3 separate regions of the Homo sapiens genome follow, and regions 1 and 2 are each linked to region 3. Evidence: fine-mapped expression QTL. A gene starts in region 3. Each other region holds a variant in brackets. All regions are shown on one strand. Distances are from middle to middle.

The links. PIP is the estimated chance that this variant, and not a neighbour inherited with it, causes the effect.
Region 1: its variant is the best candidate, but not a certain one, in a credible set for the expression of DTNBP1 in whole blood (INTERVAL, PIP 0.51).
Region 2: its variant is the best candidate, but not a certain one, in a credible set for the expression of DTNBP1 in hippocampus (GTEx, PIP 0.82).

The regions. Positions count from the first base shown.
Region 1 is chr6:15,594,436-15,598,435 of GRCh38, reverse strand. All of the region lies in intron 6 of DTNBP1 (dystrobrevin binding protein 1), which reads left to right. Among named protein-coding and RNA genes, the nearest start is that of DTNBP1-AS1, 50 kb to the right of the region's middle. The variant A/G (reference allele first, on the strand shown) is at 1,675.
Region 2 is chr6:15,683,790-15,688,142 of GRCh38, reverse strand. No RefSeq gene overlaps it. Among named protein-coding and RNA genes, the nearest start is that of DTNBP1, 23 kb to the right of the region's middle. The variant C/T (reference allele first, on the strand shown) is at 2,417.
Region 3 is chr6:15,661,433-15,665,769 of GRCh38, reverse strand. It overlaps DTNBP1 (dystrobrevin binding protein 1), which reads left to right and starts at 2,742. Exons shown (of 10, transcript NM_032122.5): 1 at 2,742-2,956. The coding sequence starts at 2,901. RefSeq lists a silencer at 2,746-3,255 and an enhancer at 3,486-3,535.

The sequences.
Region 1 (4,000 bases), 67 kb after region 3:
AAAATGTTAGGGTGCAATTTGCAGTTGGTGTTTTGAATGTGGTATTTTGTGTTAGCCTTTTATCATGGATTTGTCCTAGGGAGGCAGTTTAGGATTTAGAGAGAGTTTGCTTTATCTGTGTTTATGGAGGCATTTATCCAGTAGCTTCTGTCTATTAAGTTTTCATCTTCAGTCTGAGCTAGTTGATTTCTACTCATATATATAGATTTAATATACTTCTTGTAACATTCCATAGGCTTATTAATGTGATTCTTTCTTTCATTTTTATTCTTTATAACTCAATCCCTGGAGAGAAAATGATTAAATAATAGCAGTTTCACCCTTTGGAATATTATTAGCTTTTGATCCTGCTGTTATTTTTTGAATGTTTTAGTTTTAGGGTTATGCTAAATTTTGTAAAGGCATTAGCTGAATTGAGTAAATTTTGAAATATGTTAACATTTAAAATGAGACATTTCAATTTTTTGTTTGATCTTCTGAAAATACTATTAAACTATGGAAATAAACTCAATTTTTAGAAAATGCAAGCAACAAACAAGTTGTTTCAAATGAGATAATATTTGATCAAACTTTATCAAAAATAAAATCTATATTTTATTACAGCAATGGCCTCTTTGAAGAAGCAGATCTTAGTCATCCTGCAGCCTCAGTACTTGGTAATCATGATTTGCTGAGTGTCTGTTGGGTCCAACTCTGGGCACGCATGTGATGCAGGATGGAAGAGATGCAGTCTCTGCACTTCAGGAACTGTAGAGACGATACCTGTATGAACAGAACCACATTACAAGGCAGCACATGAAATGTATAATATTGATAGAGTTTAGTGCTACAGAATTTTTGATAAAGGAGAGATCACTGATTGGATGTCAATGAAGTCTTCTTGGAAAAGATGAACTTGAAGGCTGTTTTACACTAATTATTATTATTAGCATTTTTATGCTAATAACACAGTTTGAAGGAGAGTGACTGGAACTTAAAACTCCTGCTTACCCATGCTTTTTCATCTGGTTAGCTGAGAGTATGTCTTAATGCTTAAGAGTAAAATATCTGCCATGTTCTCGATAAATGTTGCCCATCATCATCAGTTATACTGTCCTTGAAAATGCATCAGCTCAGTCCTTGCTTCTCCAGGAGGCCTTTCCTACCAAACCTAAGTGTATGAGTTGTCCTCTCTTCTTTATTCCTAGAGAATCCTCAGCATGTCATTACCAAAGCACTATAATCTATGACATTGATTTCTAATTATTGCTTTATTTCTCTGTCTCTCCCACTAAAGTTCCTTGAGGTTATGGAACATGTCTATTCCAAACCTAGCATTATTCCTAATGCTATTCCTAACATTATCATAGTGTCTAAGGCTTAGTAAATTTTTGTTGAATGAATGATTGAACTCAACCAAGATTATATTTAGTATACGAAAATGGATATTTATATAAGGTTGATGGCAGTGACGATGGAGAGAAGTGGATCAATTCAGGCTATCTTTTGAGATGGAATTGACAGGATTTATTGATGAATTGGATGGAGAATGAGGGAGATGGATGAGCCAAAACTTGAGGAGCCGGGTAATGCCATTAACTGAGATGACGTCGACTGGAGAAGAACAGGCTGTCTTGCAAATGTTTGAGTAGCCTACTCCACTTTTGCATAAAGCTATCAAATGGGCAGTTGCAT[A/G]TGAGTCTGGAGCTCAAAGAAGAGATCAAGACAGGAAATGTAATCAGGAAGTTAGTAGCATATGGATGGCATTTAAAGCTAGGGATGAAATTGGCTTATGAGCGAATGTAAGCTGAGGAGAGAAGAGGGCCCAGAACCAAGCCTGCAGCACTCCAGCATCTGGTGGTCTGGAAGGGATGGAGACAATAGCAAAAGAAACTGAGGAGGTGGGAGAACACTAGAGGGAACTGTTTCAAGAAACCACCAGTTGGGTCAAATGCTGCTTAAGGATTAGGATGAAAACAGAGAAGTGGTCTCTGGATTTGGCAACATGATGATTGTTGGTGGTGTTGATTGTGTAATGGGGGGTCCAGAAGCCAAATTGGAATGGGTTCAAGAGTGAATGCGAAGCGAGGGAGTAGGAATCTGTAGGAGTTAAATCCTCGAGTAGGCTGAAGGGGATGGGAATCCTGTCTGCAGCTTTCAGTCTTCCTGTTTCAGCAATTTCCAAACCGAACTCATGCATTGCCCTCCAAAATCTTTTCCTTCTTATGATCCAGACTAGAACTGCCCCGGTTAGCATGCTTGTCTCCTTCCTCTCCTTACCCCATTGAGTCAGATGCCTTGGGCTGTTGAGTCTTCTTTATGATACTTTTCAAATTGGAATCCTTCATTTCATTGTCATTACCACTTAACATTGCTCTTGCCAAGTATTAATTAGCTCTTCCCCACGTGCCCCCAACGTGAGTTTCCTGTGTACTCACTGCTTTTATTCTCTCCCTTGCCAGTATATCCATCCATCACAGCTAGAACGTTCTTCCTAAAATACAGCTTTGCTCATGTTATTCTCCTGCTAAAAATAAAACAAAATATTTTAGCCTGGCACTGAGAACTCTCTACCTTTTTATCTGAATTACTTTCTCTTCATTCAGCCTGCTGTTCTGAAGTATTTGCTCCAGGACAAGTACTTGCTGAAGTATTGCTGTTCTGAAGTCTGTTTCCTAAATATAACCTGCGTCGTCTTTGGCCTCTGTGACCTCACAGTCACTGCTGCCTGTGACTGACATGCCTTTCCCTGCCTTCTCTTACATTTTCTATATTTCCAAATGCTGAGTACCTCTAACAGATGGTGGAGTACACCCTAACAATTGTGAAATTTCAAGGCTTTCAGTGCTGCTGCTTTACCTCATCAGTTCCTTAAAAGTTCCATAATACTGGTTGGGCACGATGACTCATGCCTGTAATCCCAGGACTTTGGGAGGCCGAGGCAGGTGGATCAACTGAGGTCAGGAGTTTGAGGCCAGTCTGGCCAACATGGTGAAACCCCATCTCTACTAAAAATACAAAAATTAGCCAGGCATGTGGTGGTGGGTGGCTGTAATCCCAGCTACTCGGGAGGCTGAGGCAGGAGAATTGCTTGAACCCGGGAGGCAGAGGTTGCAGTGAGCCAAGATCACACCGCTGCACTCCAGCCTGGGTGACAGAGCAAGACTCTGTCTCAAAAAAAAAAAAAAAAAAAAAAAAAAAAAAAAGTTGCATAATACTGATTTTTTTCTTTAAACCAATTATTTGTACCACCACTACTTCAAGCAGTCATCTGTTTTAGGAATTGGGTACAGGAATGATTTTCTGAAGGGAAGTTTCCTGGAAATTTCGCTGACAGTTGTGGAGTTGTGGGTCATGACGCTGTGTGACAGAGGATGCCCAGAAGATGCTGGGCTTGTCCTCTTCACAGCAGCAGACAGACGGTTGCAGGGTGAGCAGGATGAGTCCACAGGAAAACCGCCCTCCTCAATTGCACACTCACTCATTAATGTATTTAATAGTAGTTGCTGGATTCCTTGTTTTTATGGTTGTTAGTATTTGGGGGTAGGAGAATAACAGTGTCTGTGAAATCATTATTCTGAGTTTCAGCTTTTTAAAACAAGAGAGCCCTTTAGAAATTCTGCTCACAGTCACACATTCTAAAAGAAGAAAATTAGAAGCTCTCTAAACATTGTAATCATAGAAAAAAAAAAAGAATTACTCATTAGAATATTGAACTGAGTGTTCTGTCAACTTTCCCCACGTCGGGGAATTGCTAATGTGAGGATGTCACTAAGAAGTAGATTGAAGATATCTTTTTGAGATTCTCTTGTGATACATATTGCCTTCCTGTTGTATTCTGGTTTTTATTATCGGGGTATAAAGCAGGTTTTAGGCATATTTAGCTTGTACCTAGCTAAGCTTTTAAGAATGAAGTTGATTATTGACTGAAGGGAAACAATTACACAGGTTTTGTTTTTGTTTTTTTGTTTTGTTTCGTTTTTTTTTTTTTTGAGACAGAGTCTCGCTCTGTCACCCAGGC
Region 2 (4,353 bases), 22 kb before region 3:
GGCAGGAGAATGGCGTGAACCCGGAAGGTAGAGCTTGCAGTGAGCCGAGATCGCGCCACTGTGCCCCAGTCTGGGTGACAGAGTGAGACTCCATCTCAAAAAAAATAAAAAATAAATCATTAAGACTTTTGGAAATGGGTATCTCATTGTATTCCTTATGTCACTGACTCTCAGATGCAAATTTTTTTTATATTTTAACATTGTTGAAATCAGGGTGCCTGTTACAGTCACTGAGACCAGGCAGCCGTCACGATGTAGCTATCATCGCCTGTGCTTATTCGTCCAAAAGTGCTAAATCGTGTCGGGGACCTGGGGGAGAATTCCAGAGACAAGAGTGGAGCACTCTTTCAAGAACATTCTTGATTTTAAAACATGGACATTAATGAGTCAATGTCAAAAATGGTTCTGAAGAGTTGGATTCGGAATGTGTAGAAGTTTTAGGAATGCTTAACCAGTTTGTTTCAATTATATTTCACTTTTCATATATGAGTGTATATGTATATACAAACATGATAGAGAGTAATATCTTTGCTGGCCGGGCGCAGTGGTTCACACCTGTAATCCCAGCATTTTGGGAGGCCGAGGTGGGTGGATCACAAGGTCAGGAGATCAAGACCATCCTGGCTAACACAGTGAAACCGCATCTCTACTAAAAATACAAAAACAAAATTAGCTGGGCGTGGTGGCGGGCGCCTGTAGTCCCAGCTACTCGGGAGGCTGAGGCAGGAGAATGGCGTGAACCCGGGAGGCAGAGCTTGCAGTGAGCCGAGATTGCGCCACTACACCCCAGCCTGGACGACAGAGCGAGACTCCATCTCAAAAAACAAACAAACAAACAAAACACCTGAGACCCGAGATAAGACTCTATTTGGGGCTCCCCAGTTGTAAGGTGTTCCGTGCATACATCATTGGTTCCTGATCTGGGAGAGGGCATGTCAAGCACGGCCCTTACAGAGGGAGGATAATTGGAGCTTGCACCTGGCCTCCCTGGACCCCTTGCTGTGACACAACCCTTGGTTGTGATGCACGCCCCTACTTCAATGCTGCTGCTATATCGTATCCTTTTCCGGCAGTAAACTGTAGATCGGTAAGCACTGTCATTTGGTGTCCTGTAAGTCTTTTTTTTTTCGAAACGGAGTCTCGCTCTGTCTCCCACGCTGGAGTGCAGTGGCGCGATACCGGCTCACTGCAAGCTCCGCCTCCCGGGTTCCCGCCATTCTCCTGCCTCAACCTCCCGAGTAGCTGGGACTACAAGCGCCCGCCACCGCGCCCGGCTAATTTTTTTTGTATTTTTTAGTAGAGACGGGGGTTTCACCGTGTTAGCCAGGATGGTCTCGATCTCCTGACCTCGTGATCCGCCGCCTCGGCCTCCCAAAGTGCTGGGATTACAGGCGTGACCTGTCTTTAACAATGGAACTTTGCTCAACTGCCACCAATAAAGCAGATGCCTGTTAGGCATTTGGTAGGCTGTTTACAGAAATGGCCTCTAAAGCTCCTCCATCAAAGGTGAAGTCTATTTCTCCACCCTTTGAATTAACCAGTGACTCTCTTTTGGTAATAGAATGTGGTAATAGGAACAGTGGCCAGTTCTGGGTCTAAGCCTTGTTAAATGAAGCCAAATTCCCACCTGGGGTTGCCTCCATACTTTGAGTCCCTATGTAACAAACTGCAATCCAACTTAGACATAAATTAAATGAAAGCAGAAATCATGAGCCGACTTTTGTAACAAATAGCTGAGTCCCAGCCAATCACAGCAGCTGAGCTTCAGTAGGTCACAGGTGGCCAACTGATCAGACCAGGTTCAAATATGGTGTCTGCTGATTGGTTACTGAGCTGTAACCAAGCTGTTTCTGTACCTCACTTCTGTTTTGTCTATAAATGCTGCCTGCCTTGCCTTGCAAATTAGGGGGCTCTCGCGCGAGAGTTCTTGCTCTCTCTTCTTCTTCCTCCCTCTCTCCCTCTCTCCTAGGCCATCCCGCTGGAGGATGAGACATGTGCAGCAGAGCGGAATCAGCTCAGTTGTCCCAGCTGAGGCCCCATACATTTGAGAAAGCCCAGCAAAGATTAGTCAAGCCACTCGGCAAACCCACAGCCGACAACGGATGCATAAATGAGCTTCGCCAATCCCAATTCAAATAATCTGGACTGCCCAGCTGGCCCACAGACTGTAAACAAAAAAAATAGTTTGTTATTATATGCACCTAAGGTTTTGTAGTTGTATGTTATACAACATTATTGTGGCAATAAGTAACTGACACAGATATCCAAGTAGAGATGTCAAGTAGGCAGTTGGATGCATGGGTCTGAAGTTCAGGTGGAAAGTCCAAGCTGGAGGAAATTTTGAGAGCAGTAAGGATTGTAGTGGACAGTCATCTGCTCCACCTGGATTCCCTGGAGTAACTTGTTTTCTGAGAGC[C/T]CCACTCATGCTTTTGCTTCTAACACCCAGCACCTGTGTCTCTTTGGAGCCTTGCCCTTGGGCTTTTAGAGCTGCTTTGCCCCCTACAACTACAGAACAAGATATACCTGGAAATTTACTTATCTCTAGGAAAGGGGTTCCCAACCTTTTTGCCACCAGGGACCGGTTTCATGGAAGACAATTTTTCCATGGACCGGGTGGTGCAGAGGGATGGTTTTGAGATGATTCAAGCACATTACATTTATTGTGCTCTTTATTTCTATTATTATTACATTGAAATATATAATGAAATAATTATATAAATCACCATAATGTAGAATCAGCGGGAGCCCTGACCTTGTTTTCCTGCAACTAGATGGTCCCATCTAAGGATGATGGCAGTCAGTGACAGATCATTAGGCGGTAGATTATCATAAGGAGCCTGCAACCTAGATCCCTCGCATATGCAGTTCACAATAGGGTTCCCGCTTCTATGAGAATCTAACACCGCCGCTGATCTGACAGGAGGTGGAGCTCAGCTTCACTCTCTCACCCACTGCTCATCTTCTGGTGTGCAGCCCAGTTCCTAACAGGCCATGGACAAGTACCAGTCCATGGTACCGGTCCGGGGGTTGGGGACCCCTGCGCCATATGACAGGAGGTGGAGCTCAGGTGGTAATGCGAGAGGTAATAGGGAGTGACTGTAAATACGGATGAAGCTTTGCCTGCTTGCTCGCCTACCACTCACCTCCCGCCGTGCAGCTCAGTTCCTAACAGGCCACAGACCAGTACCGGTTTGTGGCCCAGGGTCTGGGGACTCCTATTCTAGGACAACCCTTGACCAGTGACAGACAGGCACAGGGTGCAGAGGGCGAGGTGTGTGAAAGCCTAGTTCTCTTTTCTCTGAAAAACTCTGGGCATACCTCAAGCCCCAGGGTTTCTTTACGCCCAGGACTGGGCTAAAACTACCCTCTGCAAAGACTGCCTACCTTTGCTGGGCTTCTTCTCCTCTGTTTGCATCCCCCTCTCCCTTACCAGTCTGGGGATTATTTCCTTAAGAAATCGTGTGCTCACAAATCAGGCTCTGCTTCTGGGTGACCCACCCTAAGACAAACACGTAAGTAATGTTTGAAGCCATGAGTGTAGATCAGCTATCTATAAGATTATCAAGGGGCTTGGTATCCATAGTTATTCTCTATATTTAGCATTTTAAGACAATTTGATTTTTTTTTTTAATTTTGGATTCCTTTTTAAATTTTGGAACCAAGGCAATTCTGAACGTTTCTAAGTATAAAGTCTGCCCTTGCACTGATGAATTTATGTAGCAAATATTTAAGATTCTGCCAGAGTAGGATTTTCTAACCAGGTCAACATCCCCTTGACACATATTTGCTTCTGGATGCAAATATAGAAATAAAGAGAGGGATGTGAGTGTGTGAGTCTGTGTGTAAGTGAGTGTGTGTGTGTCTGTGTGTGCACACACTCCTGTTGAGGCGGGAATAAAGGAGACTTATGCATGTTATTGGCCATCAGGCAAAGTGAGGAACAGCCCCTGTGGAACTAGAGTGCATTCCAGATTCTGGGATGTTTTGCACAATATCTAAATGTGGTGAAGCTCTAAAAAGGAAAAATGGCCACAAGTATACGTCATTCAAAAATATTTAGGTCATTTACTATATAACTGGCACTGTGCATGTAAGGTGAACTGATCAGACATGATTCTGCCCTCTCTGTCCTTAAAAGTTTGATGGTGAGAGAAGGAGAGATAGGCATTAAATAATTACCTAGATAATTATTTACTTATAATTATGTGTGTTTGAAAGAAAAAGTAGAAGACATTCTCAGAGTAAATAACTGGGGACTAGCATTGTCTGAACCAACAAGAGAGACTTCCCTGAGTAAGTGGCCTCCAAGTCAAGCCTGAGGGATGAATTGAGTTAAAGGGATATCAAGGGCAC
Region 3 (4,337 bases):
GAAATGATCAGGCACAACCAGTAAAGCTATTTTTTAGTGACAGGCAAGAGTCTTTTTTGAGTGGATTTGGTGCTTTGTTGGAATGTATGAAACTTAGTAAATTGAAAGCTTATGTGTAGAGTTTAATTGAATAAAAGAAAAAAATTTAATATTTCCCAGTACTTGTGGTTTTCAAATCTACTAGATACTAAGGGACCTGTCTGTAGATTTGATCATTTGATCACTTGCTTTGTTCCAGGCACTGTTTCTGAGAGGTAGAAGAAGGCTCAATAAACAGCACTCCTCTTTCTTACTTGTCTGAGCAAACTGAGAAATAAAACAATAGTGTCAGCATAAAGAGGCCAAAATATCACTTTTATATCTAGGAAGACTGATGGAACACATGGCTTATATTCATGGGCAAGCAGAACTTCTAGTACCCAGTCACAAAAAGCACTGGGTTGCCCTTCAAGCCTGTCTTTAGGCAGCAGAATGAATGCTCTTTGTTGGAAGTGTTCACTCAACAAAAAGAAAAGAAGATGAGACCAAGCTCCTTACTTCTAGCTCACTAATCATCGTAGTCACCTCTTCCCCACCAGGAGAGGCTGGGTACTTCTTTATGTTAGCAGAAGAGCTCCCTTCCCATGGAAGAAAACATCAAGAGTGGGGAAGAGGTGGTCCCCCAGCTACAAGCTAAGTCCTTTATCTTATTTAACTCCTGCAACAAGACATTTACTGGGTGTCTGTTATGTGCCATTCACTGTTTTCATTGCTGGGGATGCAAAGCTTAATAAGACAGAGCAGTTTACATCTGGGCCTGTACTTGTGCTACTTACCTCACTGGCCTCATCCAATCCCAGCCCTAACAGATCCTGTGTATTTAAAATTTTGATATTTTGTTCATCACAGATTTTTTTTCATTAATTTTGAATTTTTTAAATATTGTATTAAAATATTACTTATCTTGATTACTGAGCTTTTTGGCTCCCGTAAATTTTGTACCTGAGGTGAATGCCTTATTTGTCGTGGTTTTAAAATATGTTTGTAAACAACTAAATTAATAAATAGCAAATAATTATTGAATAAATTTTCTAATGTGTACTAAGTTGAGAAACAGGCTACGTGATAGGAAGTGATTGGGTGTGTAACTTGAATGGTAAGTAAAACCTATCTAATGTGATGCTATTTAGGATGTGACCCTTATGTTATAAGGAGCCAGACAAGGGACAGTTTGGAGAAAAGTTTGTGAAAACACCACAGGTGGAAATAAACCTGGAATTTTCTAAGAACACACCAAAAAAAAAAAAAAAAAAAAGGCTATTATGTCTTAATTGTCAAGGACATGATAGGTGACTAGTAATCAATTTGGATACAGTGCTAGAAAACATTCAAATTTTAGGGCTTTTTAAGGGGGTAAGTAGTTTGAATTTTATTCCAAGTGCCCAGGAGGCAATTGGAAGATTTTAAGCAGGGGAGCAACGTGATCCGATTGATCTTTTAAATAACTCTTTCTGGCTGCTGTGTCAAGGATGGATTATAGGGGTGTGTATGGCAAAAGAGTAGAATCTGGAAGAACTGTCTGTGTTCCCATTGAAAGAGGATGGTGCCTTCGACCAGGATAAATATAGTGAAGATATAGAAAGAGAAGGAGGTTCCAGAAATACTTCAGGAGTAGAGTTGATTGGATTTGATGGGTTAATATGGGGAATGAGGAAAAGAGGGGAACCAGAGGTGATTTCAAGTGTCTTACCTTGAGCAAATTGGTGGATGGTGGTGTCATTTACTGAAACGGAAAATACAGGATGAGCAGATTAAAGGTGAACATGCAATGAATGAAATTTTCAATTTTGTGTATGTTGGTCTGAGATGCCTTTTGGATACATGTTGTATACATGCTTACATGAGTAAGCAACTGGTATGAATTGACGGAGAGGGAGGAAGGACAGGGCAGAAGATAGAGCTGTGGGAGTCATCGGTTCCTTGACAGAATTTACAGCGTGGTAATGGATAGACTCTATGCTATCCATCTATGGAACAACACATCTGGAGAAGAGAGAAGAGCTGGGGAGGCTGGACTGTAGCCTTGGGAGTGGCTATTAAAATAGGAGAAGGGGTGGAGCGGAAGGGAGAGAGGAACTATGGAGTGCTTAGCAAGAGAAGAAAGTGTTTTAAGGATGGGGATGATAAACTGCATTGAAAGCCACTGAGAGGTGGAGAAAAAATCAGGGCAGAGAAGTAATAAAAGGCATCAGCAACATGGAAGTCACTGGTGACTCGCGAAAGGCGATCACCTTTGGTGTGTAGGGCACAAAAGCCTGGGGGGGTAAAGAGAGAGTGGAAAGTAAGAATGTCGAGACAGTCGACTATTATTGCCATTTTATGAATGAAGAAACCGAGGCTCAATATTTGACTGTCTCATTCAAGGTGAAAGCCAGTGGGGTCAGATCCTGGACCTAGAATCCATGCAATGATTTGTGCACATCGCCTATTGAAGAGAGAGATCCAATTCTCTTCCAAAACGTAAAAGCCAACACTTCCCTCAAAGGAGGCTTCGAGTTAAATCATCCTTTCACGATGCCGCTTCCATTTTAAAGAAAAAAAAAAAAAAACGAGAAGGCCTGGTGCGGGATAGGAATGAGCCGAGGAGCTACTGGCCCTCTCGGTCGGGGGAAGACCCGCCCCTTTTCCGCAGCCCGAGCCCGGCGCAGTCCACTGCGGCTGCGCGAGCCTGGCGCGCGCGGGGCGGGAACGCGGAAGGGGCTGGGGTTGCGGCGCGGCGGCGAGGACCAGACCGGGGGCGGGGCCGGTAGTGGGAGTGCGGGGCGCGCGGTGACAGCGCGGGGTTGGCGGCGTGGGACCCAGGGGGCGACAGAGGCAGCAGCAGCCCGAGGCCTGAGGAGAGGAGACCGGCGGCGGCGGCAATGCTGGAGACCCTTCGCGAGCGGCTGCTGAGCGTGCAGCAGGATTTCACCTCCGGGTGGGTATACGGTGGGCGACGAAAAGGGACCTGAGGGGGCCGGGCCGCCGCCTGGGATGCCCCTGCCTCGCTCCCTTCCCCGCGCCACGGTCCAGGGTCCGTCCTGTCCCGCACCTCCCCGCCCCGCCCCGCCGAGGAAAGTAACGAACTTCCCGGCGTCCTCGCGTCGGGCGGCGCAAAGTAACTTAGGTCCCTGCGGGCCGCCTGTGACGCGCACCCCCCAGGACCGGGAGGCGCTCGGCGGCGCAGCGGAGCGCCCGGGGGGGGTGTGGGACCCTGCGGTCCTTTCCCGGCAGCATCAGCTGGGCCCTGGAGGGAAGTCATGTGAGAAGCCAGCGCGCCTCACCGCTTCCGCCCCCGCGGCACAGTGGCCTGCGCCCCTCGGCCCAGCAGACACCTGCTCGTGCGCACCTGGAGCTGGGCCAGCCACCCTCCCCGAGTCGGATCGCACCGCGCAGCAGCCTGCACCCTCCGGCCACAGCCTTCCGCGCCGCGTCTCGGCTTTCACGCCCGGCTCGCCGGCCTAACCCTTGGCAAGGCTGGCCGCCCCTCCCCGTTGCGTCCTTTCTCTACCTTTGCCGTGAGCTCAGCGCCTCGGCGAAGGAACTCCTAAGCAGGAGAAGCGACAGAACTTTAGGAATGCTTTTAATACCCAGCGGTTCCCAAACTTTGCTTAGAATCACCTGGGAACCTTTCAGAGTTCTGATGCCCAGGTCTCACCCCCTACCTGTTGACCAGAGTGCCTGGAGACGGCGTTTTAAAGATCCCCAGGGGATTCCAGTGGGCACCAACGCCTGGGAACCACAGGCCGAGACTCTGGCGCCAGATTGCCTAGGCATCCTGGCTCGACCACTAAATCAAACGTAGTTACTCAGCTGCCTTGCCTCAATGTACTGTTTCCGCTACCGTAAAATGGGGATAATGATGGTACTTAAAAGGTTATTACAAGGATTAATGAATTAATGTGTAAAACACGAAGCAAGCATCATGTCAGTATTGTTACTTAGTGCTTAATTTTAATTTTTTCATTCCTTTAAAGTGAAAAAGATCTGTCTTTGAAAAGGATCTTTCAACTTTAGCTTACAAATCCTGTTGGAGGATGCACTGAATGTGAGAACATTTCCACTCATACTGTTTTAAATTTCTCCCCCCCACCCCCCTTTTTTTTGAGATGGAGTCTTGCTCTGTCACCCAGACTGGAGTGCAGTGGCGTGATCTCGGCTCACTGCAACCGCCGCCTCCCGGATTCAAGCGATTCTCCTGGCTCCACCTCCTGAGTAGCTGGGACTAGAGGCGCCCGGCTTATTTTTGTATTTTTTAGTAGAGACGGGTTTCACCATATTGGCCAGGCTGGTCTCGAACTCCTGACCTTGTGATCCTC